Regions from separate parts of the Homo sapiens genome. Here all the other regions are linked to region 4. Evidence: fine-mapped expression QTL. A gene starts in region 4. Each other region holds a variant in brackets. All regions are shown on one strand. Distances are between the middles of the regions. Region 1 has its middle 66 kb from the start of TRMT44. Region 2 has its middle 20 kb from the start of GPR78. Region 3 has its middle 52 kb from the start of TRMT44. Region 4 holds the start of CPZ (carboxypeptidase Z).

Evidence for each region. PIP is the estimated chance that this variant, and not a neighbour inherited with it, causes the effect.
Region 1: its variant is the best candidate, but not a certain one, in a credible set for the expression of CPZ in lung (TOPMed, PIP 0.78).
Region 2: its variant is the best candidate, but not a certain one, in a credible set for the expression of CPZ in esophagus mucosa (GTEx, PIP 0.67).
Region 3: its variant is the best candidate, but not a certain one, in a credible set for the expression of CPZ in subcutaneous fat (GTEx, PIP 0.50).

The regions. Positions count from the first base shown.
Region 1 is chr4:8,503,797-8,509,401 of GRCh38, forward strand. It overlaps a transcript of TRMT44 not described here. Among named protein-coding and RNA genes, the nearest start is that of TRMT44, 66 kb to the left of the region's middle. RefSeq lists an enhancer at 386-1,273. The variant C/G (reference allele first, on the strand shown) is at 3,056.
Region 2 is chr4:8,557,211-8,562,761 of GRCh38, forward strand. No RefSeq gene overlaps it. Among named protein-coding and RNA genes, the nearest start is that of GPR78, 20 kb to the right of the region's middle. RefSeq lists an enhancer at 2,761-3,475. The variant C/T (reference allele first, on the strand shown) is at 3,731.
Region 3 is chr4:8,490,400-8,496,004 of GRCh38, forward strand. It overlaps a transcript of TRMT44 not described here. Among named protein-coding and RNA genes, the nearest start is that of TRMT44, 52 kb to the left of the region's middle. RefSeq lists enhancers at 1-633, 741-1,259. The variant C/T (reference allele first, on the strand shown) is at 2,080.
Region 4 is chr4:8,589,271-8,594,666 of GRCh38, forward strand. It overlaps CPZ (carboxypeptidase Z), which reads left to right and starts at 3,495. Exons shown (of 11, transcript NM_001014447.3): 1 at 3,495-3,651. The coding sequence starts at 3,564. It overlaps GPR78 (G protein-coupled receptor 78), which reads left to right. Exons shown (of 3, transcript NM_080819.5): 3 at 1-753. RefSeq lists an enhancer at 4,498-5,172.

The DNA.
Region 1 (5,605 bases), 85 kb before region 4:
TCAGTGCCCTGGTTGCTTCCCCTTCACCCTCCTAAATGTTGGAGTTCCGGAAGGCTCTGAGCCCCTCTTGTTCTTATCCTCCTGGCTAGCTTCGTCTCCAGCAAGCCCTCACACGCACCTCGGTGCCAAGGCTTGCAAACCTCAGCCTGTCCTGGCCTCGCTCCCAAGCTATGGGACAGAGCGTCTCCCCCGAGGCTCCCGAGCCTGTGGTGCCCTCTGCAGTCCCCGCACCCGTCCACACCTGCTCTCTCCTGCTCCCCCTCCAGCCTCTGAGCCTCTGAGGTTGGTGGGCATCTTGGTGGTGGCTGCTGGGAGGGTCTCAGGGCGGGGCAGGGGCTGCATCAGGGGTCTGCACTGCATGGAATGGACATGGCATGGTGTAAGCCCCTCAGCCTGAGATTCAGCACCATTTCCATGCTGCTCATGTCCCCACCTCCTCGGCTTTCCCCATGGCCCACCTAAGTCTCCTGCGCTCCTGCAGGGCTGAGCAATGGCCCCCATTCACTAAGGCAGGGAATCCCCTCTGCCCGTGCCTGCTCCCTTCCCCGCCAGGTACCCGCGCCAGCTTTACTGCCTTCCCTCTTCCTCCCGGGCCTGCGCTGCTGCCCTCCTCCCCTGGAGCTGTGCCAGCTCCAGCTTTTCAGCCAGCAGCTCCTGCCCCGCCCCACTCATTGTGTCCAGACCTGGGCTCCATGCTGACCCCCAGCGTGTACGGAGCTCCTGCCATTCCTTGGGTGTGGACCTGTGCCGAGTCTGTAGTGTGCACAGGTCCTGCCAATCCTTGGGTGTGGACCTGCGCCAAGTCTGTATCCACCTTCAATAGCTCATCTCTTCCACCCGGGAGGAAGTTCCCTTCATCCTCCCTGTGGGGAAGAGGGCACTGAAGCTTGGCAGAGCTCTTCCTGGGGTCTCAAGGGTCTGCTCCAAACCCTTGCTCTTGCCCCTGTCACAACCCAGGCACCCTGGCTGCACCTGCAAACTGCACTCCATGGTGGCAGCCCTGCCCTGCCAGTGCCAGCCCCGTCTGCCTCACCACCCCAGTCCCTGAGCTCCCTGGGGCTGAACGCCACTTCTCTGGATTCTAAATAGGCCCCCGCAGGGTACCTGTTGCTGTATCTACCACTTCCCCCAGCCTCCTGGTCTGGGTCCTGCTGATTCTGGTCATTACTCACCTTCTGCTCTACCCACCCTCCCCTGCATGCTGCCCCCAGCCGCAGAGGAATGCCCCCTCCATGTCCCACTCCCTCCACCAACAACAGCTGATCTGTCCTTTCTCCTGGCTGCGTGACCTCTCAGGAAGAGGCGGTGCTACACTGAGGGCCCTGGCAGCCTCTCTAGGTCCCTGTCCCTCACCTTTCAAAGGAGAGATAGGACAGAGGTGGCAGAAACTGGCTGGAGCAGGCTTCTGTCCGGGTGCTGCTCCGGCTGTGACTCCTCACCCCTCAGAGCTGCATCTTCCATCTGCGAACAGGAGGCTGCAGCCCCTGAGGAGGTGGCATCTCTGCCTGTGGGAAGTCAGGTGCACTGAGGCCAGATGCAGGGAGGGTGCTCCAGGCTCAAGGGTGCAGGAGGAGCCTCCTGCCCTGGGAGGCCAGCACTCAGCCCCAGCTCTGCCACCTTGACCTCCCAGCACCTCTGCAGCCCGGGCATCCTAGTCTGCAAGACGTGGTAGGGTGGATGGAGATCCCCAGGGTTCCTCCGTGGCCCTGGACAGGCAGCCGGTGTGGGGGGCATGAGTCACGCCCTGTGGGGGAAGGGGAGCAGCAAATGTGCCTGCCCTCCGCTGCACTAGCTGCACTGTTTCATGCCCATGCAACCCTAAGAGATGGGAGTCCTCACTGTCACCCTCTCATTCAGATGAGGAAGCAGAGACAGAGAGGCTGAGACACTTGCTCAAGGCCACTGATATGGTTGGGCTCTGTGTCCCCACCCAAATGTCATCTTGAATTGTAATCTGCAGGTGTTGAGGGAAGAACCTGGTGGGAGGTGATTGGATCACAGGGGCGGTTTCCCCCATGCTGTTCTGGTGATAGTGAGGGAGTTCTCATGAGGTTTGATGGTTTTGTAAGGGGCTCTTCCTCCTTCTTGCACTTCTGTCTCCTGCCACCATGTGAGATGTGCCTGCTTCCCCTTCCACCATGATTGTAAGTTTCCTGAGGACTCCCCAACCATGTGGAACTGTGAGTCAAGTAAACATCTTTGCTTTATAAATTATCCAGCCTTGGGTATTTCTTCACAGCAGTGTGAAAATGGACGAATACACACAGCAAATCACAGCACCATAGTTGGGGACGAGGGCTGTGTGGCCCTGAGTATGTGCTCCTGATGAGGACATGGGACACCAGCTAGAGAAGGGGCACTCCCTGCTCTCATGGGGACATTCACAAGGAGACCTGGTGCTCAGTGCAATGTCTGGGGACCTCCTTGAGACCAGGGCACGTGGGTGTCACAAGCTGCTGAGGGGCTGTGCCCTGCTGACACTGCTGAGGGCGCTTGGAGTGCAGAAATATTTTCAACAGAAGTGGAGCAGAAGGGATTTCTCCTAAACCCTCTGTTACCCAGAAAACGGCATGGACTGGAATTCCGCATTTCTTTAACAGTCTGTTTAGCCAGATCCTGACTCCACCAAAAACAAAGAAGCCCTCAGCCGCCTGCTGGGGTGGGAGGTAGTGACTGTCCTTCCAGCCCGGGCACCACTCCATGCTCATTGCTGATTTGGCCTCACTTAACCTTTGGTGCTGGGCTCTGCCGCATTCCAGGGTCCCTGTGTGACCTGGGCAGCCCCTTCCCCCCTCAGCCTGGGGTCCTCTCGGGCTGGGAGGTGATGGCTCTGCCCCAGGGGGAGCGGGCCAAGTGCTACGTGTGCACTTCTCTGTGGAATTCTCACCTCCTGGGCCAGCCCCTGGGCGGAAGGAGGCTGCTGGCCCCGCGTGGCCTGCCCTGTTGGAGGCTCCGCCAGAGCCCACGTCTGCAGTGCTTGGAGCCATTTCTTGGCACAAATATAAAAACAACTCCAGCTCTGCCGTGCTCCAAGTGAGAAATGCTGCTTGGTGAG[C/G]TGGGCTGGCTGGGCTGCTGGCCCTCGGTCAGCCGCCTGCAACAGGCAGGGCCACGGGAACCTCATCAGCAGAGCTTCCTGGAGGCAGCGTGGGTGGAATTGTGGAATTGTCATCAGACAGGCCTGGGATGGAGCTTCCCCACTGGAACGCAGCTGGCTGTGGACAGGGAGTCAGCTGCTGCCTGAAGGGACAAGGAGGCCTGCGACCACAGCAGGTTCCCACCTGGCCTGGGCCTGGAGGCCAGCAGGCACCTTTCAGGGCTTCCCAGCTCAGCCCCCACAGCTGGATGGAGCTGTGTTCCCTGCAGAAGTGTGGCCGGCTCCGAGCAGGCACAGGGGGCTCTTTCCCTCCACCTCAGCCCTGGCCTATGTGGGCACAGCAGAGGACGTGCTCACACCATGGGGGCCCCCGACCAGGCGAGGCCAGGGCGTGTCCACATTGGGGAAGTGAACGAAGAAGGACAAGTCTATTTGAGGGGCTGGCTGATAGTTTAGAAGCCCAGAATCGCCTGGCAGTGAATTATTCTGCTGAGTAACACTGTACCCAGAGGGATGTGGCTGAAAACCCCGGGAGGGAAGGCTGCGTGCGGGAAGCACTCCCATCCTCCCCCAGCGCCTGCTCTGGGCGTTCCGGAGCTCAGCGTGCATCCTTGCCTGTGGGTTCTGGGACCATCCTGCCATCTCCCTCCCCTTTCTTTCCCCTTTCCCCTCCTTTCCTTTCTCCTCTTTCTCCTTCTTTCTGTTTTCTTCTTTCCTGGCTGAAGCCAGAATTCATTTCTGTTACTTGCATCCAAAAAGTGTTCAAACAAGCATGCTTGCTGGGATCCTGGGTCCTGCCCCTGGTCACCTGGAGGCAGGGCTGTCGCTCCATGTACAGACAGGAGTCCAGGAAAAACTTGAGGAGACACAGCGTGTTCCGGCCCCCGCTCCTTCACCCCTGCCCCGTCCCCCAGTGACAGATCCGGCAGCAGGCAGAGCCTTGAGCCCAGAAAGCCCAGGCCCCCTGGGAAGCTTAGGTGTGGCCTCACATCTGGCAGTTTTTGCTTTGATTTGTTTTGTTTTGTTTTGTTTTGAAATGGAGTTTCGCTTTTGTTGCCCAGGCTGGAGCGTGACGGTGCAATCTTGGCTCACTGCAACCTCCAGCTCCCAGGTTCAAGTGATTCTCCTGCCTCAGCCTCCCGAGTAGCTGAGATTACAGGTGCCCACCACCATGCCCAGCTAATTTTTGTATTTGTAGTAGAGATGGGGTTTCACCATGTTGGCCAGACTGGTCTCGAACTCCTGACCTCAGGTGATCTGCCTGCCTCGGCCTCCCAGAGTGCTGGGATTACAGGCATGAGACACTATACCTGGCCTCACATCTGGCAAGTTTTACAGCTCAGGTTTCTGTGTGGGGTCCTGAGGCAGCCCCTGGGCAATTTCGTATGGCTGTGGGAGGGTGAGGAGGGACTTTCAGGACGTGACCTTGTTATTAGCAGGGGCTGCGGCTGGAGGTTGGCCTGCCGGGCCCTGAGGGTGGGTCTGGGTGCCATGGGTTGTGTCTGTTGTGTGGGTTATTGGTTGGGCCTGGGGAGCCCATGGGAGTCTCCAAGCCCCCTCCCCAAGTGACCCCCAGCCAGGCCTGGCCACCTCGTCCCCTCTGCTGGGCTGCGGAGTTGAACCTGATGTCTGCTCAGAGTCACCTCTGAGTGGTGCAGACATTCGGAAGTGTCCGTGGGACTGGATGGAAGGGACCCCATCCTCAGCCTTCATGGCCGGGGTCTGGCTGACCGACTGTGGCCATGGGGTTGCGGCGCCTTGGGCGGCAGATCCCCCATGAGTGTGAGGTGCTGGCTTCTGCACCTCCCATGAGCCCACAGACACACAAACACAACCCCGTGTTTGCTGATACATCCCAAGGCTTTGGTCTGTTGGGTTTGGGGTGAGACCCTTCCCTTCCTTTACAGATGCTCACCTGTGAAGAGGGAGAACGTCGCTGTCCGAGCAAATGTCTCTTCTGTGTCCTTGGCTGCCTTCCTCCTCCTCCTCCCGCCGCCTACTTTGGGGCCCCTTCCTCTTCTCAGCAGTGCCACTGACCAGCCCAGCCTCATGCACCATCCCGGCCGTTGCCCTGGAGGGCTGGCAGCTGGCAGGACTCAGAGAGGGCCCAGCCATCACCCCTCTCTTGAGCAGATGACAGAGTAACACTGGGAGTTACTATGGACACTGGAAAAGAGAACACAGATGCGTCGGAGATTTTGTAGTTGCAACTCTTCTCTGGTAACCAAAAAACATCAGGACATTCATTGCAAGTGCAACGCTGAGGCTTTGAAGGAACCAAAGAGATCCTTTGCAGCCCTGAGGACGGAGGGAGGGAGGGAAAAGGGAGTGGGGTGGGAGGGAGGGAGGGAGTCCACTGCAGAAAGTGGCACTGATCCCTCTGAGCCTCTCCGGCCTCATGTGTAAGATGCCAGCTGCCCCGGAGTGGCAGTGGCGAGTGAGTGGCTGTGTAAGGTGCCCAGGCAGGAGCTTGCGGGCAGCCCTGTGTGAAGTGGGCAGCCTTGGGCCGGG
Region 2 (5,551 bases), 32 kb before region 4:
ATTTCCTGTTCATTTACTTTGTCAGTTTTCTGTTGGGCATTTTTTTCCTCTTATAAAAACAAACAAACAAACCCGGAGAGTACTTCTTGTGTGACTGGTCCCGAGGCCTGGAGGTGAGGAGGGGCCTGAGCATTTTGTGCAGAAAGTCCGAGGGCAGTGTGACCTGAGCATCCAACTAGGGGACCCTCGTGGCTCCTCACTGTGGTGGGAGGCCCCGCCAGCGGGTCCTGTGAACAAGCGGAAAGTGGGTTCTGGGAGGGAATTTTTAGTGAAAAGAAGAAGGTACTCAGAGTGCCAACCCTTCATGGCATGTGGAAAGAGAGGTTACTTACCCCAGAGCCAACATGATCACAAGGCAGCCAAAATGGGCGGGGGCCATTGGCAGCCTCAGTTTTCTCATCTGTGAAGTGGGTGCTGTGAGCCTCCTTCCCTGCCACATCCGGGCTCGGGCCCTTGGCGTCCTCTCCTCGGGACAAGTGGGGCAGCCCTTCCCCAGCTCTGGGACACCTGTGCCCCTCCCACACACCCTCCGCTCAGCACAGGACCCTTTAAAGCATCTGCCCCCGCTGACCCGCTGCTTTGGGAATCCAGCTCCAACAAGAGGCTTCGAGCTGCCCCCAGCCCACCACAGCAGTGTTTGGCACCCCTGCCGCTCCCTCTGCCACGGTCACTCCTCCAGCCTGCTCCCAGCTCCCACCCTGGCCCACAGCTCTCGGCACAGGCCCCAACCATTGAGAGCTCACCCCAGTGCTCAAGGTTGGGCTGGGGGCCTCCCATCTGCCCCTCCTGATCCCTCACCTCCCTGTGCCCGGGTCTGTCTGTCTGTCCACCCCAGAGGCCACCCCTCCTTGATCATTGCTGTGACCCAGCACCTGCCTGAGGACCCTGGGAGCTGGTTCAGGTGTGCTTGGGGGGCGGTGGGGGGGCACTGATTAGGCAGGGCATGTTTGGTGCCACCTACCTGTTAGCTCGCCCACCCTGTCCCCAGGACTGGCTTCCTGGCTTGGCACAGAATTTGGCTGGCTTTCCCACTGAGAGGCGGCAGTGATGAAGAATGGGCCAGGGACAGTGCTGGGACTCGTGGAAGGGCAGTGAGGGTCAGCTGGGCTCTCTGCTTCCCGGCCTTCCAGGAAGTCACGGGTCGCCTTCTCTACCTTAGCCTCAGTTGTGCCCCAAGGAAGGGGGTGAAGTTTCCCATTGTTCCACGTTTCCAGGGTGGGAGTTGGGATCTGGGGGCAGTGGAGAGGCGGGGTGCCATGCTGGGGAGGTGTTGTTAGAATGGCCATGGTGGCATGCTGTACACTCTTGCCCTCCCCCAGCCCCACCCAGGCCTGCCTTGTTCCTGACTCACCCAGGCTTGTCCGGGAAGCCCGGCCAGAGCCACCATGCAGAATTCAATCATCCTGAGTGTGGAGCCAGGCCCAGCCCTCACTGGCCACAGCTCGGCCCCCATTTCCCTGGCCAGCACCGAGCCGCAGGGGAGGGTGAGAATCTTTGGCATCTTGGCATACGTTTGTTGTTCCAGAGTCGGGCTGTGCCGAGGGAATGTGCTGCTTCCCCCATTTTGCAGACAGGGACACTGAGGCTCAGTGAGGGTGAGGGCTCACCCAGGTTGCAGAGCCTGCCCAAAGCTGGGTCTTCTGGCTCCAAGTCGGGAGCACGCTGCACACCTCATGCCATGGATCAGGCCTTGAAGCTCTCCGTGAAGGTGTACATTGTGCCCCTCATTGACCGGCAGAGAGCCAGGCCTCAGGGACGAGATCCTGGACAGGTGAGTTTGGGTGGGAAGAGAGGAAAGAGAAACTGATGTAGTTTAGGGAGATCTCTGGTGGCGTGGATGGCAGGGCCCCTGGAAATGCTGGTTCAGCCTCAGCAGGAAGGGGTGCCGACCGACCACAGGATCACCCAAATTAGAGACCCGCAATCTGTCTCTCCCAGGCTGTAGCTTCCCGCAGCAGGGCTGTGGGCGAGGCAGTCACCATCCTGCATGTTTTGGGGCAGCAAATTTCCCTTGCACCTGCTCACTTCCTGGGATCGAGGGAAGACCAAGTCACAGACCCCAGCCTCAAGGAGCCCGAGAGGAGACAGGCAGGCAAACAGGCACCCAGTGAGGGGCAGTGGTGATGCTGACGAGCTGTGCCTTCAGCTCACTCTGATGGGCATTGGGAGGGTCGGTCTTAGCTGTCAGCTTGGTCAGGCGATGAGCCCAGGTATCCAGTCGAACATGAATCCAGGTGTTGCTCCGAAGGTATTTGTGGGTGTGATTAAAGTCCATAATCAGCTGTGGGTGTGATTAAAGTCCACAATCAGCTGCCTTTAAAGGAAATTGTCCTAGATCACCCGGGTGGGCTTGATCCGGCCAGTTGAAAGGCCTAAGAGTGGAATCAATCCTGGGGGCAGCAGCTGCAGCCCATCTGAACTTCCAGCCAGCCCCGCTGATGACCTGCCCTATAGACCTCAGACTCGCCTAACTGGCTCCGTGATCCTCTAAGCCAATTCCTTGCAATAAATCCCTTGTGATAAACCTCCCACTGGCTCTGCTCCTCTGATTGAACCCTGACTGATACCATCGTCATAATCCAGCTGTGAGAACTAGGCTTTTTCAACTATTCTTTCATTCCACAATTATTTGTTGAGCACCTACTATGTGCAGTCTCTGGAAAGGCTCAGAGTCTAGCAGAGACCACAAAGTTCAAGCCCTTACCCCTGCCTCTAAAGGGGGAGGCCCATGATTAAACAAGCCCAGAGGTCAAGAGTGGACCAGGTGCCATTGCATTGTATTTGAGGAGGTGAGGTCATCTCTAGCCTTATCTAGGGAGTCTCTCCGAGGGCACAAGTGTCAGACAGGCTGGAGTTATTCAGGCAGGCCCTCCACAAACCCTTTCACCCTTTCACTCTCTCTGAGCCTCGGCACCCCGCCCCACCATCTGAATAGATGGCACCTGAGCCGTGCTTGGTAGATGCTTAGTTTCTGTCTGTGCTAGGGGCTGAGAGGTAGCCTCCCTCCCTCGCTCCCATGGACAGGCATCCGTCCTGGCCTGGGTTTGGCTTTGTGGCATCAGATGGAGGACAATCAACGGCAAAGCCTTAACTCTGGAAACGGATCTGGTTTGGGGTCTTGTCCTTCCTACTGGCCTGCTGGCTGCAGGGCCGTGTGGGGCCTCAACACTGTCAGCAGCTTAAGGCAGGCCATTCGTACACCCCTCCTCCATGCCTCAGGGTCCCCAGACTTGGCCTTGCAGAGGCCACAGCTAGGGGGAGGGTTGGGGCCTGGACAGTGTTGTGCTGGTAGATGTTGAACAACCAGCCCCGCAGGACAGGAGCCTTGGTTGGAAATGTTTGTCGGTTCCACAGTGTGAATACTTCCACTGCAGCCCATCTCCAGTTACCAATGCGGGGTACTGTGCATGGAGCTGGAGAGAGGTAAGTACAATCGCTTCTCCACCGGGCCCGGGCTTCTCTCAGGTTTGAGGCTGGAGGTGAGTGAGCTCCCCCTGGGAAGAGGCTGGGCTGCCGGGGGAGGAGCTGTCTGGGGGCGAAGAGGGGCCCACTGAGCCCAGGACTCTGCAGCCAGCCTGGCTCGCTGGCACAGCCGGGAAGATTTCCCTAAGACTCACCACTCTGTGTGGGGCTCTCAGTAAATGTTTATTGAGTGATGCATGATGGATGTTAAGACATTGAATCAAATCTTGCTCTGACCTTTGAGTCAGTCTGTTGGGTGTGAAAGAAC[C/T]AGCTTTTCTGCTCTGTTTGCTGGAAGCGTCTGAACCCCTCCTGGGGCCTCCTGCTCTCACCCTCCTCCCCTTCTCTGGGACCGTCCTCAGGGAAGGCCTCTGGGCTTGGCGTTTCACACAGCCTCTTTCCCACCTAATCTCAGGCGTTCTTGCAACAGCCCGTGGAGGTAAACAGCTGTGTCTCTCAGTTCCACCACTGGCCACAGGCAGGGCCTTGGGTGAGGTTTTCATCCTCCCTGGGTAGTGGTTTCCTCTCTCCAAAAATAGAGGGAGTAACAATATCTACTGCATAGGCTTGGCGAGAGGACTGCATGGGGTAACACAGGAAAGTGCCTAGGCTGGGTGCGGTGGCTCACGCCTGTAATCCCAGCACTTTGGGAGGCTGAAGCTGGCGGATCACGAGGTCAGGAGTTCGAGACCAGCTTGGCCAACATGACGAAACCCTGTCTCTCCTAAAAATACAAAAATTAGCCAGGGATGGGGGCAGGCACCTGTAATCCCAGCTACTTGGGAGGCTAAGGCAGGAGAATTGCTTGAATCTGGGAGGCGTAGCTTGCAGTGAGCTGAGATTGCACCACTGCACTCCAGCCTGGGCGACAGAGTGAGACTCTGTCTCAAAAAAAAAAAAAAAAAAAAAAAAGCTCCTAGCATGGGGCTTGGGACACGGTGAGGACAATTAAATGTGAATATCACCCTCGTTATTATTGCATATCATCATCACCACCAGCAGCACCTTCATGACCACCATCAGCACTACCAGCATCACCGCCATTATCAGCACCGCCACCCTCACCATTGTTGCTATCATCCTTGTAAACCAAGAAGTATCTGAGACAAGTCTCAATCAGTTTAGAAGTTTATTTTGCCAGGGTTAAGGACCTGCTCAGAAGAAAAGAACACAGATTGACAAAAACGGTGGGTGGTCTGTGCCATTCTCCAAAAATGATTTTGAGGGCCTCAATATTTAAAAGGGAGAAGCAGGCTGGAGGGGAAAAAGGGAGGGTGTGGTTGCATTAGTGAATCCTTATGTTGCAAGAGAAAGGGAGCAGGTATGGAAATAGTCAATTAGGTATTTGTCTTGTGCTCATAGAGTTGCTATCTGTGCAAATAACTTTTTATCTGTAGCTCTCTATCTGCTTAGGAACAAGAGGAAAGGCAGCTTCTTGCACAGTGGGGCTTTCAGACTAATGTTCTTCCAGTTGACATAGTGAATTGTGCTCAAGATTTTATTTTCCTTTCACTTTTCTCCTCCCACCCCCATTAAAAAAAATCTTTCAAAGAAAGCATCTTAGAAGAAAACTGAGTCTCTGGTCTTGGGTTTTGTCTGATGTCTCTCGTGGCTAGGATGGTTTATTCTGAGATGGCTTAGGTCCCAGGTGGTTAGGAAAGCTGACTTTTAGTAAGTTATGTAGTCTCGAGTCTCACAGAGAAAAATAGGGGAGGAAAAGAGAAAAACAATGGGAGGAATAACAACAAAAAGGAAAACAATCCTGGAAAACTGACATAGGCCATATGCCTCTGAAGTCCATACGTCAGTCAGTATGCAGGGATGAAAGTAGCTTAGGTCTTAATATATCAATAGGTTGCTGTTATTGTCTTTCAAGGTTTGTCTAGCTTCAGCTCACAGGGCTTAAAGGCACCGCTTTAATTTTTTTGTGATTCTAAATCAGGAGAAGATGGAAGGGAAAACAATGAAAAGAAAGAAAAAAATTGAAAATATTATTCTGGAGACTTGTAGCCAGGAAAAATTGTAGGATTCAGTCCAAATTGTAAAAAATAATAAAAATTGAAAAATCCTGGACAAGGCTACAATCTAATAA
Region 3 (5,605 bases), 99 kb before region 4:
TGGTCTCGCTGGCTCAGGAGTGAAGCTGCAGACCTTCGCCGTGAGTGTTACAGCTCTTAAGGCAGCGCGTCTGGAGTTGTTCATTCCTCCCAGTGGGCTGGTGGTCTCGCTGGCTTCAGGAGTGAAGCCGCAGACCTTCGCGGTGAGTGTTACAGTTCTTAAGGCGGCGCGTCTGGAGTTGTTCATTCCTCCCCGTGGGCTCGTGGTCTCTCTGGCTTCAGGAGTGAAGCTGCAGACCTTCGCGGTGAGTGTTACAGCTCATAAAAGCAGCGTGGACCCAAAGAGTGAGCAGTAGCAAGATTTATTGCAAAGAGCGAAAGAACAAAGCTTCCACAGTGTGGAAGGGGCCCCGAGCGGGTTGCCACTGCTGACTGGAGCAGCCTGCTTTTATTCTCTTATCTGGCCCCACCCACATCCTGCTGATTGGTAGAGCCAAGTGGTCTGTTTTGACAGGGTGCTGATTGGTGCGTTTACAATCCCTGAGCTAGATACAAAGGTTCTCCACGTCCCCATCAGATTAGTTAGATACAGAGTATCGACACAAAGGTTCTCCGAGGCCCCACCAGAGCAGCTAGATAGAGAGTGTCGACTGGTGCATTCACAAACCTTGAGCTAAACACAGGATGCTGATTGGTGTGTTTACAAACCTTGAGCTAGATACAGAGTGCCGATTGGTGTATTTACAATCCCTGAGCTAGACATAAAGGTTCTCCAAGGCCCCACCAGAGCAGCTAGATACAGAGTGTCCGATTGGTGTATTTACAATCCCTGAGCTAGAGATAAAGGTTCTCCAAGGCCCCACCAGAGCAGCTAGATACAGAGTGTCGATTGGTGCACTCACAAACCTAGAGCTAAATACAGGGTGCTGATTGGTGTGTTTACAATCCCTGAGCTAGACATAAAGACTCTCCACATCCCCACCAGACTCAGGAGCCCAGGTGGCTTCACCTAGTGGATCCCGCACCAGGGCAGCAGGTGGAGCTGCCTGCCAGTGCCACGCTGTGCGCTCGCACTCCTCAGCCCTTGGGTGGTCGATGGGACTGGGTGCCGTGGAGCAGGGGGTGGTGCTCGTCGGGGAGGCTCGGGCCGCACAGGAGCCCATGGAGTGGGTGGGAGGCTCAGGCATGGCGGGCTGCATGTCCCGAGCCCTGCCCCATGGAAAGGCAGCTAAGGCCTGGCGAGAAATCGAGCACAGCGCCGGTGGGCCGGCACTGCTGGGGGACCTAGTACACCCTCTGCAGCCGCTGGCCCGGGTGCCAAGTCCCTCACTGCCTGGGGCCAGCAGGGCTGGCCGGCTGCTCCGAGTGCAGGCCCGCCAAACCCACGCCCACCCGGAACTCCAGCTGGCCCCCAAGCGCTGCACGCAGCCCCGGTTCCCGCTCGCGCCTCTCCCTCCACACATCCCTGCAAGCTGAGGGAGCCAGCTGTGGCCTTGGCCAGCACAGAAAGGGGCTCCCACAGTGCAGCGGTGGGCTGAAGGGCTCCTCAAGTGCCGCCAAAGTGGGAGCCCAGGCAGAGGAGGCACTGAGAGCGAGCGAGGGCTGTGAGGACTGCCAGCACGCTGTCACCTCTCAACTCAGTCTCCCACATGGCGTGGCCACCCTTGTGTCTGTTAAACTCTTTCTCTACAAAAATGCCATGGTCTTTCTTTGTGCAGTGGTCAGGAAAAACCCCTTGGGCAGATACAAAAGTTCTTTCAGGCATCTGTTTCCAGAATAGCGAGGTTTCCTCCATATTGAAGATTTGCTGTGGCAAGTAAATCTCCTCCATAATCAAGCTTCCAAAACTCTTCAGCTGCCTTCACATCAGCACCCACAGACTCAGCATTCATGTTAACATTATGTAATGCATAACGATCCTCAAATCATGTAAACCACCCGGAACTGGCAGTAAATCTGATACCAAAGTCAGGTCCAGCCTTTCCTTTCAACATCAAAAACATACTTTTTGCTCTGGCCATGACCGCCGTGGTGCTGAAACCGCCTCTGCAAAAATTATAACAGAAAATTATGACCGTGAAAGGACAACTAACCTAACCGACTCCATCTTGCTTCTAATCTCCAAGCTGTCCTTGTTCAT[C/T]CCCGGGCGTAGGCTCAACCTACTTTGGGAGGAACTTAGTTTACAGTGTGAAAGGAAAATAAATCTTGGGGCCCCAAAATCACTAACCCAAAGCAGAAAGTCAAGCTGGGAACTGCTTAGGGCAAACCTGCCTCTCATTCTATTCCTAAAAAAGATAGCTACTACGATTAAAAAGCTACATACCTCCCTCACAAGGAAATTCCTTGTGGACAAATGACAGAACTCAAAGCCACCTCTGCTCACTGAGATAGATGCGTCTCTGCCTGCCTCCTTTGGAAAGGCCAATCAGAAACTCAAAAGAATGCAACCGTTTGCCTCTTATCTACCTATGACCCAGAAGTCCCCTCCCTGCTTCGAGTTGTCCCACCTTTCTGGATGGAACCAATGTATACCTTACATATACTGATTGATGTCCCATGTCTCCCTAAAATGTATAAAACCAAGCTGTGCCCGACCACCTTGGGCACATGTCGTCAGGACTTCCTGAGGCTGTGTCACGGGCACACATCCTTAACTTTGGCAAAATAAACTTCCTAAATCGACTGAGACCTGTCTCAGATATTTGGGGTTCACAATGGTTTAACTTTGAAACAAAGACAATAACAACTCTTTTCCAAAACAAAGTCCCTGCCTGCCTGAGGATCAGACTGCCTTTGTAGGACTAACAAATTTGCCATGAGATTAGAAATTATGGTGTAGGAGTAATGCAGCTGGAGGTGGCGGGATTCTGAACCTCCTTAAATTGCTCCTGTGATAACCTAAGATGAGTGCTTAACATCTTTTACAGACCCTGTATTCAGTGGATCAGCTGGCACCACCCAAATAGATAAATTGGCCCATCTGGTCTTGTGGCCCCCACCCAGGAATGGACTCAGCTCAAGAGGACAGCTTCAGCTCCCTAAGATTTTATCTTGGACCCGACCAATCAGCACTCCCGACTTACTGGCCCTCTACTCACCAAGTTATCCTTAAAAACCTCAATCCCTGAGTTTTCAGAGAGACTGATTTGAATAATAATAAAACTCCGGTCTTCCACACGGCCGACTCTGCATGAATTAAGCTCTTTATTGCAAATTTCCTGTTTTGATCCATCAGCTCGGTGTAGGCAGTGGGCAAGGAGAACCCTCTGGGCAGTTACAGTGCTGAGAGGCATTCACTCCTCTGTCTGGTCTTCAGTCTATGTTGGATCCAGGCACCTCTCGACTTTCCGTTAGTCACCTTGCTCTCAGCGCAGCGGATCCTTTTGGCCTCCACTTTCCATTGGTCGCCTTGCTTTCACAGAGGCTGGCTCTTTCAGCAGCTGTCGCTTTGTCCTTGCTCATCAGGGCCACAGCTCTGGTGGAATGGGACCTGCCTGCCTGGCGAGCATAACCACCTCTGATTTTCCACCTTCATGGTCCTTAGTCACTTGTCATTTCGTTTTCAGGTCAGTCACTGGCAATAATGACTCTTACTGGTCTCTTACCAGCAACATTAGCTGTGGATCTCGTATGCTTAGGGACCATGATGAACAAACCACACGAGATTAAATCAGGCACAAGAGAAAAGTGTGCAACTGAGAGATGCAGAAAACACCAGGTGTGTGAGGCAGCTGTGGGGTGATGGGACGCACAAAGTGTGAAAGGAAAATCAATCTCGGGACCCCCAAATCACTCAGCCAAAGGGAAAAGTCAAGCTGGGAACTACATTAGGCTAACCTCCCATTCTATTCCTAAATAAGATGGCTGCATAGGTTTTAAAAAGCTGCATACCTCCCTCACAATTTGTTCCCTAGGAAATTCCTTGTGGGCCCCAAGATCTTCACCCTAAAACAGTTGTGTTAAATTTCACCCTCACAATGTAAATGGAGAGCTGATATTCACAGGTACAGGACAAAGGACAGAGCTCAAAGTCATCCCTCTGCTCACCTGAGACAAATGCATACCTGATGGCTTCCTGTGCCCTACGTTTGTTTTATCTTAGTAGAAATGCAGGTTCACTGAGCCAGACTAAGTTGTGTATTCAGTGAAAGACTGATCGAGGACTCAAAAGAACACAACTGTTTGTCTCTTAGCTACCTGTGACGTGGAAGCCCCTGCTTCCAGTGGTCCCACCTTTCCAGACCAAACCAGTGTTCATCTTACATATGTTGATTGATGTCTCATGTCTCCCTAAAAATGTATAAAAGCAAGCTGTGCCCGACCACCTTGAGTGCATGTCATCAGGACCTCCTGAGGCTGTGTTATGGGTGTGTCCTTAACCTGGGCAAAATAAACTTTCTAAATTGGTTGAGGCCTGTCTCAGATATTTTGGGTTCAAATACCCAAGGGAGGTATGAAGCTTTTTTTTTTTCTTCCAGTCTTTGCAGCTGTCTTATATAGGGATAAAATGGGAGGCAGGTTGCCTGATGCAGTTCCCAGCTTGACTCTTCCCCGTGGCTTGGTGATTGTGTTCTGGGAGCACCGTCGTAGGTGTGTTCTGTGGTGGACTGAAACATCGCGATGTAGTGCATGGTAAGCATTAAACACGGGTGAACGGTGTGCTTTCACCAGCTCCCAGCTGCTCTTTCCCAACACGGGCTTTCATCCAGGAAATGGCTGCCATGGCTGTTTGGAACCACCTGACTTGTCCACCATGAGAGTCCTCAGTCAGGGGAAGACAGAACATTTGGAGACCCCAGGTTAGGGTAGGGAGACTGTTCACACCTGGAACAGGAGGCAGCTGTGCCCCTGTCTGTTCCTCACAGTCCTGCTGCACTTGGGCAGTTTGCATCCATTGTCATAGGTAAACCCCCATGGGGTGTTAGTGACCTGATGCCATAGAGGAGAAAACTGAGGCTCAGAGAGGTTAAGTGACTTGCCCAGAATCACACAGCAACTGCCAGAGTCAGGATTTCCACGCTGGGCTGCAGCCTCCTGGCAGGGCTCTTCCCTGTGAGGCCCTTGACCAGAGGGACACTCGGGTTTTAGTCTGGGGGGCATGCCTTTGTTTTTCACCCTCCAGTCATGGTGCATGGTGGTTTCTCATTGGTGATGAAGTGGAGCTTTCAAAATGAATCCATTTCAGTAAAAAAAGTGGGTCAACTAAATACAAAATATTAACTAGGTGACAGTTTATTTGGTGCATGGAGAGGGACGACATCACAAAGGCAGCCCTCAAATTATGCAAGCTTGGAAATCACTGCCTCATATCTCCTTCCAGAATCAGGAGCAGGCAGCACCCGTGTCTCAGCGCACACCCTGTCCTTGTCTTGCACCTGATAGTGAGGCAGGAGAATCGGGTCTGGAGGCAGGGAACCTGAGGCCGATTCCTGCTGACTGGATACCAGAGGCAACCTCTTTTCAACCCCTCCTTTTTTTGCTGGCAGTTGAAACATGAAAGTACCTCTGATTGGTTCCCTCCCACAAACAATCAGACTGGTTGTGGGCCTACTCTTCACTCTGGTCCTCTCCCACAACCAATCAGACTGGTCGTGGGCGGGGCCTATTCATTCTGATTGTTTCCCTCCTGCAGCCAATCAGATGGGCCACAGGCCGCTACTTCATTT
Region 4 (5,396 bases):
TCGTTTGGAATAATAACAACTATAGGTATGTGGTCAGGAAGCAGTTAAAAACATTAAAATACAGACCTGGCCAGTTCAATCCAACCCAGGGGTTCCAAGCAGGAGGTGGGGCAGGTGGGCGTCATGCCCTGATTCACAGAGGGCACAGGTGGGTGTCATGCCCTGGTTCACAGAGGGCACGTGAACTCGAGACCGTGCTGCACCCCGGTGCCCCTGTGCTTATAAGGGAGGGCACGTGCACAGCAGAAGCAGGTTGTTCCCCATTTAAAGTTCTGGAGCCCAGGCTGTGAGCTCCTTGGCTGAGCCCTCTCCTGTCCCTGGGAGCTCCCCAGGTGCGAGGAGCCTGCCAGCCAGTGGGGCCTACACTCTGTGTTATTGCATCTCCGCCAGGCTAAAAGCCTTGGTCACTACTTTAGAGCCACTCAAGGAAACGCGTGCACCCTGCCCTGCTGGAAGGCACCATGGTTAGAGGGAGGCACACTGTTTCTTAGAGACGGGGACTGCTTGCTGTCATGTTTCGCCTTCCTCGGCAGCTCCATGGAATGTTCTGGAGCAGGCATCTTAGGGCATTCCCTCCGCACTTCTCTGCCAGCCCATGTGGCTCCCACACTGGGCTATCCCTTGCCTTAGGCTTGTGGCCTTTTTTTTTTTTTTTTTTTTAATTTGAAAAATATTTTTCATGTGCACTTAAACGTGTTGTGGAATGATGCTGGGTCTCAAGAATGCTGTGAATCAATAAACATTTTATTCAGAGGGTGTCTCATTTCCATGGAAAGGGGGGAATTCTGCCGTGCATTAGCCACAGTCCAATTACCAGGATAGCAGAGCTTTCTAGATGCCTGGGCTTGCAGGCAATCCCCTGCTGGGCTTCCAAGACCTCCAGGCTAGGCCCTGCACTGTGTGCAGCGAGCGAGGGAGCCTTCTCCTGTTGTTTTGACGGTGGAGCTGCAAGCTTGGGAGGCTTTCCCGTGGGTGGGCGGGAAGCAGAGAGCCGTGGGGGCTGTGAGGCTGGCAGGGAGCTTGCAGGACATAACTGCTCATTTATTTTATTTGGGGGACCGGAGTTTTTTTATTGATTCCATCTGTCAGAGGGCTGCAGCATTCCATGACGGGTAAGGCAGAGGGAGGCCCTGTGGGAGCCCAGAGTGACAGTCCTCTCTCTCAGCTTGCCTTCTTGTCCTTTTGAGACCATGATCTGCTTCTCCTGAGCCTCCCTCCTGTTCACATGGGATACAAAACTCAGCCAGAAGGGGTTCTGAGCCAGGAGCCCTCTCTCCATCCCCTCTGTGCTTGCTGACCCTCGCCCTCCTGCCTCACCTGGGCACCCATCCGTAGCCAAGCCTCCAGAACCCTTCCTGGTCCCTGTCGAAGCAGTCCTTCCTCTCACCCACCCTCCACCAAGCAGAGCCAGCTCCTAGAAATGCAGCTGAGAGCAGGTTGTGTTCCTGCCAGAAGCCCTGAGAAGTCCCCAGGCTATGGTCTCTGCTCCTGAGCCTGGCATTGCTGGCCCTTTCTGTTCTCTGTCCTCACTGCTCCCCACTCCTATCTACGTGGCCTCGGGCTAAAGTACTGGGTGCCCTAGTCTACTGGCCTCTCCCCAGGGGGCCTGGATCCTTTCTGGGCCTTCTCTTGGTACTTCCTCCTCCTCTGCTTAGCCAAGTCCTTCCACCTGACTGAGGCAGACACAACCCTCCCTCCTCAGGTGCTCATAGCCCCAGCACCCTTCTCTCAAGGGTCCAGCCATAGGGTGGGTAGGAACAGGGTCAGACCCACTTTTATCCCCAGCACCCGCTCTGCAGCAAGTGCTGGGGATGCCGGCATGCACACACCATGTCCAGCTGGGGAGCAGGCTTCCAACGACTGACAGGCTCCTCCGGCTGCCATGCTGACCCTACCCCAACCTCATGAGCCCCAAGGTGGGCCGCTCTTTTGAGCGGTGAGTCTGTGCTCTTTTGATGACACAAAGTGGCTTCTCTCCTAGAAACTTGTCCTGCAGGGCACCCCCCATGGGACCACACACCCGGCCCCAGGGGCTGTGCTCTTGCAGACTTGGCTCTGGCCACACCTGCTGGTTCACTGGCCCCACCTTGACTGCACAGGTGTGGCTGGGTCCTCTCCCCGTGGCCTATTGCCCGCTGGGCTGGCTGGACAGTGTCTGGGGATTTGGTGTGATGGGGACGACTTGGATGCCTCTTTTACCCCTGGGAACGATTAACCCTGTCTTGTGATTTGCCCCTGATGAACCATTTGGTGGGTTGGGCCCTCGTGGGTGAGACGCTGTGGATTAGAGGCTGTCCCTTCCAACTTAACTGTGGAAGAGAGAAGCTGGTTCCAGGAAAGATGACCAAATTCTTCTCCCCGAGTCTTAAAAAGTGACACAAGCTAGCACTCAATTTCCTCAAATCTAAAATGCCGTTGATTTTAAACTGTCTGTTTTAGGTACCACTGGGAAGGAAAAGCCCAGAATGAGGGCTGTGCTAGGAGACACCCTCAACAGGTGGGCCACTCACGGCTGAACGCTCAGCGTCCACGAGAACTAAGCCTGCCACAGCAGGGGACAACAAGGAGGCACGGTGTCCCCACCCCAGCTCTCAGGGAGGAGGAGGAAAACCCTCCCTGGGACTGTGCACTGCCAGCTGGGGCTCGGGAAAGCATGGAGTCTGAATTCGCCCTCAGACCTGGGCTGGAAAGCTCAGACAGGGAAGTCAAAGACTGTGGCCCCGGAGGCTGGCCGGGGCAGTCAGAGTTGCTTCTGGAAGGACCCAGCTGAGTCCAGGCAGAGAGAGGGCAAGGTTGAGCACCAGGCGCCCCAGATCCCGGGGGGTATTGAAATGGGCATCTTTGAGCAGATGACCTGCAGGAAGCAGCACCTGCTGGGTGCCAGCAATGAGTTGGGGCCACAGTGAGTACTGTCTCCATTACCCCAGCCTCTGGGCGAAGGGGCTTGTCCTAAGTCTCAGGGCTGGCTGAGTGGCAGCTGGCTCTGGGGACTGCTACTGGTGCACTGGTATAGCTGGCAAAGGAACCCATGAGGCACATGGCTCCTAAAGGTCCAGCCACCCAGCAAAGCCCCCTCCCCGCATCCACACAGGGGACAAGGGTCAAAAGGTGGGGACATGCCTTCACTTTCCTCACCTGACAGGCCCTGGTCTGCTGGGATCAGCGCTGCAGCCAGAACCCGCATTCACCCGCGACGCAGCCTGTGCAGGGGACCAGGGGTTTTAGGCAGGATCAGCAGGGAATCTGCATACCAGCTCCACAGTGCACTCAGGTGGCAGATGGGGAAACTGAGGCCCAAGGAGGGGCGGGGAGCCCCTTGGACGGGGCGGGGCACTCCGCCCGGGGCAGGCAGGGGCCTTTATCTGCTGTCCTGCCCCTCCTCCTCCCCCAGCGGCATCCTCTCTCTAGCTTCTGGCGCTGCCCACTGTAACCCGACTCCGGCATTTGCGTTTGGGGCGCCCTCCCTGCGCCGGGGGCGGGAGCCCAGCGAGCGCAGAGCCCCGGCCCCGCGCGGCCCGAGTGCCACATCACTGCGCTGGCCGTCCAAGGTCCGCCGCCCCACCATGCCGCCCCCGCTGCCGCTGCTGCTCCTTACAGTCCTGGTCGTCGCCGCTGCCCGGCCGGGGTGCGAGTTTGAGCGGAACCCCGCCGGTAAGGCCGTCCCCTGCCCCCACCCTCCACCCTCCACCCTGCAACCTCTGGGGAGTGTGATCCGTCGCTTCCCAGGGGCCCGGGAGCTTTCTTCCAGTAGGTCACGCGCCTATGGTCCTGGCGAGAACGTCTCCAAAGTGGGCAGCATGTGGCCTGGGACTGGTAGTGTGACCTCTCCCCTGGACGGGGACACCAGGGAGGCTCTCTACGGCATCCAGGCCGGGACCCCAGGCAGCAGAGGGTCACCACGCCTGGGCCGGGGGGTGAGATCTTTTTCCTGTCGGACACAGCAGCAGGGGCGCCCTGCAGGTGGGTTCGAGGGAGCAGGTGCCAGGACTTTGCAGGGTGAGAGGCCATCTAAGGTCCCCGGGTCTTTCCAGGAACGGGACAGTCTCTCTGGGCTGTGGCAAACTCTTGACCCCTCCCTCCCAGCTGGGGCTGTGATGTGGACAGCAAGTCTCCGGAAGTGGCCCTAAGGGCTGGGAGGGGGCGTGGGCCCCCTGGAGGGATCTGGGGCCCGGAGAGGGAATGGACGCAGGGATCCTCTGGGAGGTCTGCCCGCACGACCTCACCCAAGGGGTGTGCAGCGGGGGTGGGGAGCAGGAAGGTAGAGGCTGGGGGCTGGATCCTGGGCTCCCGTCTGGCCTCACGGCCTCTCCAGGTGTGGGGGTGCATCTAGCCAACCGTGCTCAGGACTCTCATCAGAAGCAGACATCTGGGCTCCTGCGGGAGTGGGGCCGTGTGTGGGTTCAAGGGTGCAGGGTGTCAGGTTCTGAATCGCTTGTTCTCTGGGGTTTGTGGATACCTGAGAACTGCCTGAGCCCTGCGAGTGGATGTGCCAGGACCACAATACCCCACCCCAGTGCGCTGTGTCGACACTTTTCCTTTCCGTCCTGTTGATGCCTGGATTTTCCTCCCACCTCTGCTCCTCGCCTTACCTCTGGGCTCTTTTCTACCCGCTGCGTGTGTGCTCATGCAGGTGTGCAGGTGGGGTGCTGCTGGAGCTTGTGCCGTGTTGTGGGTGGGCCTCCCCTTGGCCCCTGAGAGCCCAGACAGTATCTAGAATCATAGGCTTGTTGGAGACCACAGCCCCCTCCTCCAGGAAGCTCTCCTGACCTGCCCTTTCCCAGGAAGAAATGCAGCCTCCTCCTCTGCACGCAGGCAGCACAGACCACCCTGTCCTCACCCAGCAGGATGCATGGGCTGGTCTCTGTCCCTGGCAGGTGCTGAGCACAGCCGTGGCATCGGCAAGTGTTTCTGGGAGAAATCACTCATCCCCCAGTCCAGTCTCCCCTCTTATGGACGAGTGTGGAAGTCAAGGACGTTTCCAGCCCACAGGCAGAAGTGGGCAGAGCCGGTCACCTGCAGTGCAGGTCCCCCACCCCGGGCTGCCATGTCCCTGTCTCGCCATCTGGGTCTTGCTGAGAGCAAGCCTGGTGCTCTCTCCTCTCTGCCTCACCCTTCCCTGGTGGAAGATTCCCTGTCCTCACTGGAGCCTGGGGACGGAGGTAATTTTCATGTCCTAGGGTCTGGGATTCAGATTCTGACTCCTCAACTCTGCTGTGTGACCTGGGCAGATGGCCTGACCTCTCTGACCTCATTCAGGTCTCATCCCTGACCCAGGCACAGCCACTGGTCAGTTGAGGAGGGGGAGGACTGACGGGCTGTCACTCCCCTGTTGAAGAAATGCTGCCACCTCGTGGTTAAGAGGCTTAGAACTATTTCAAAAGCCGCTTTCAGACCAG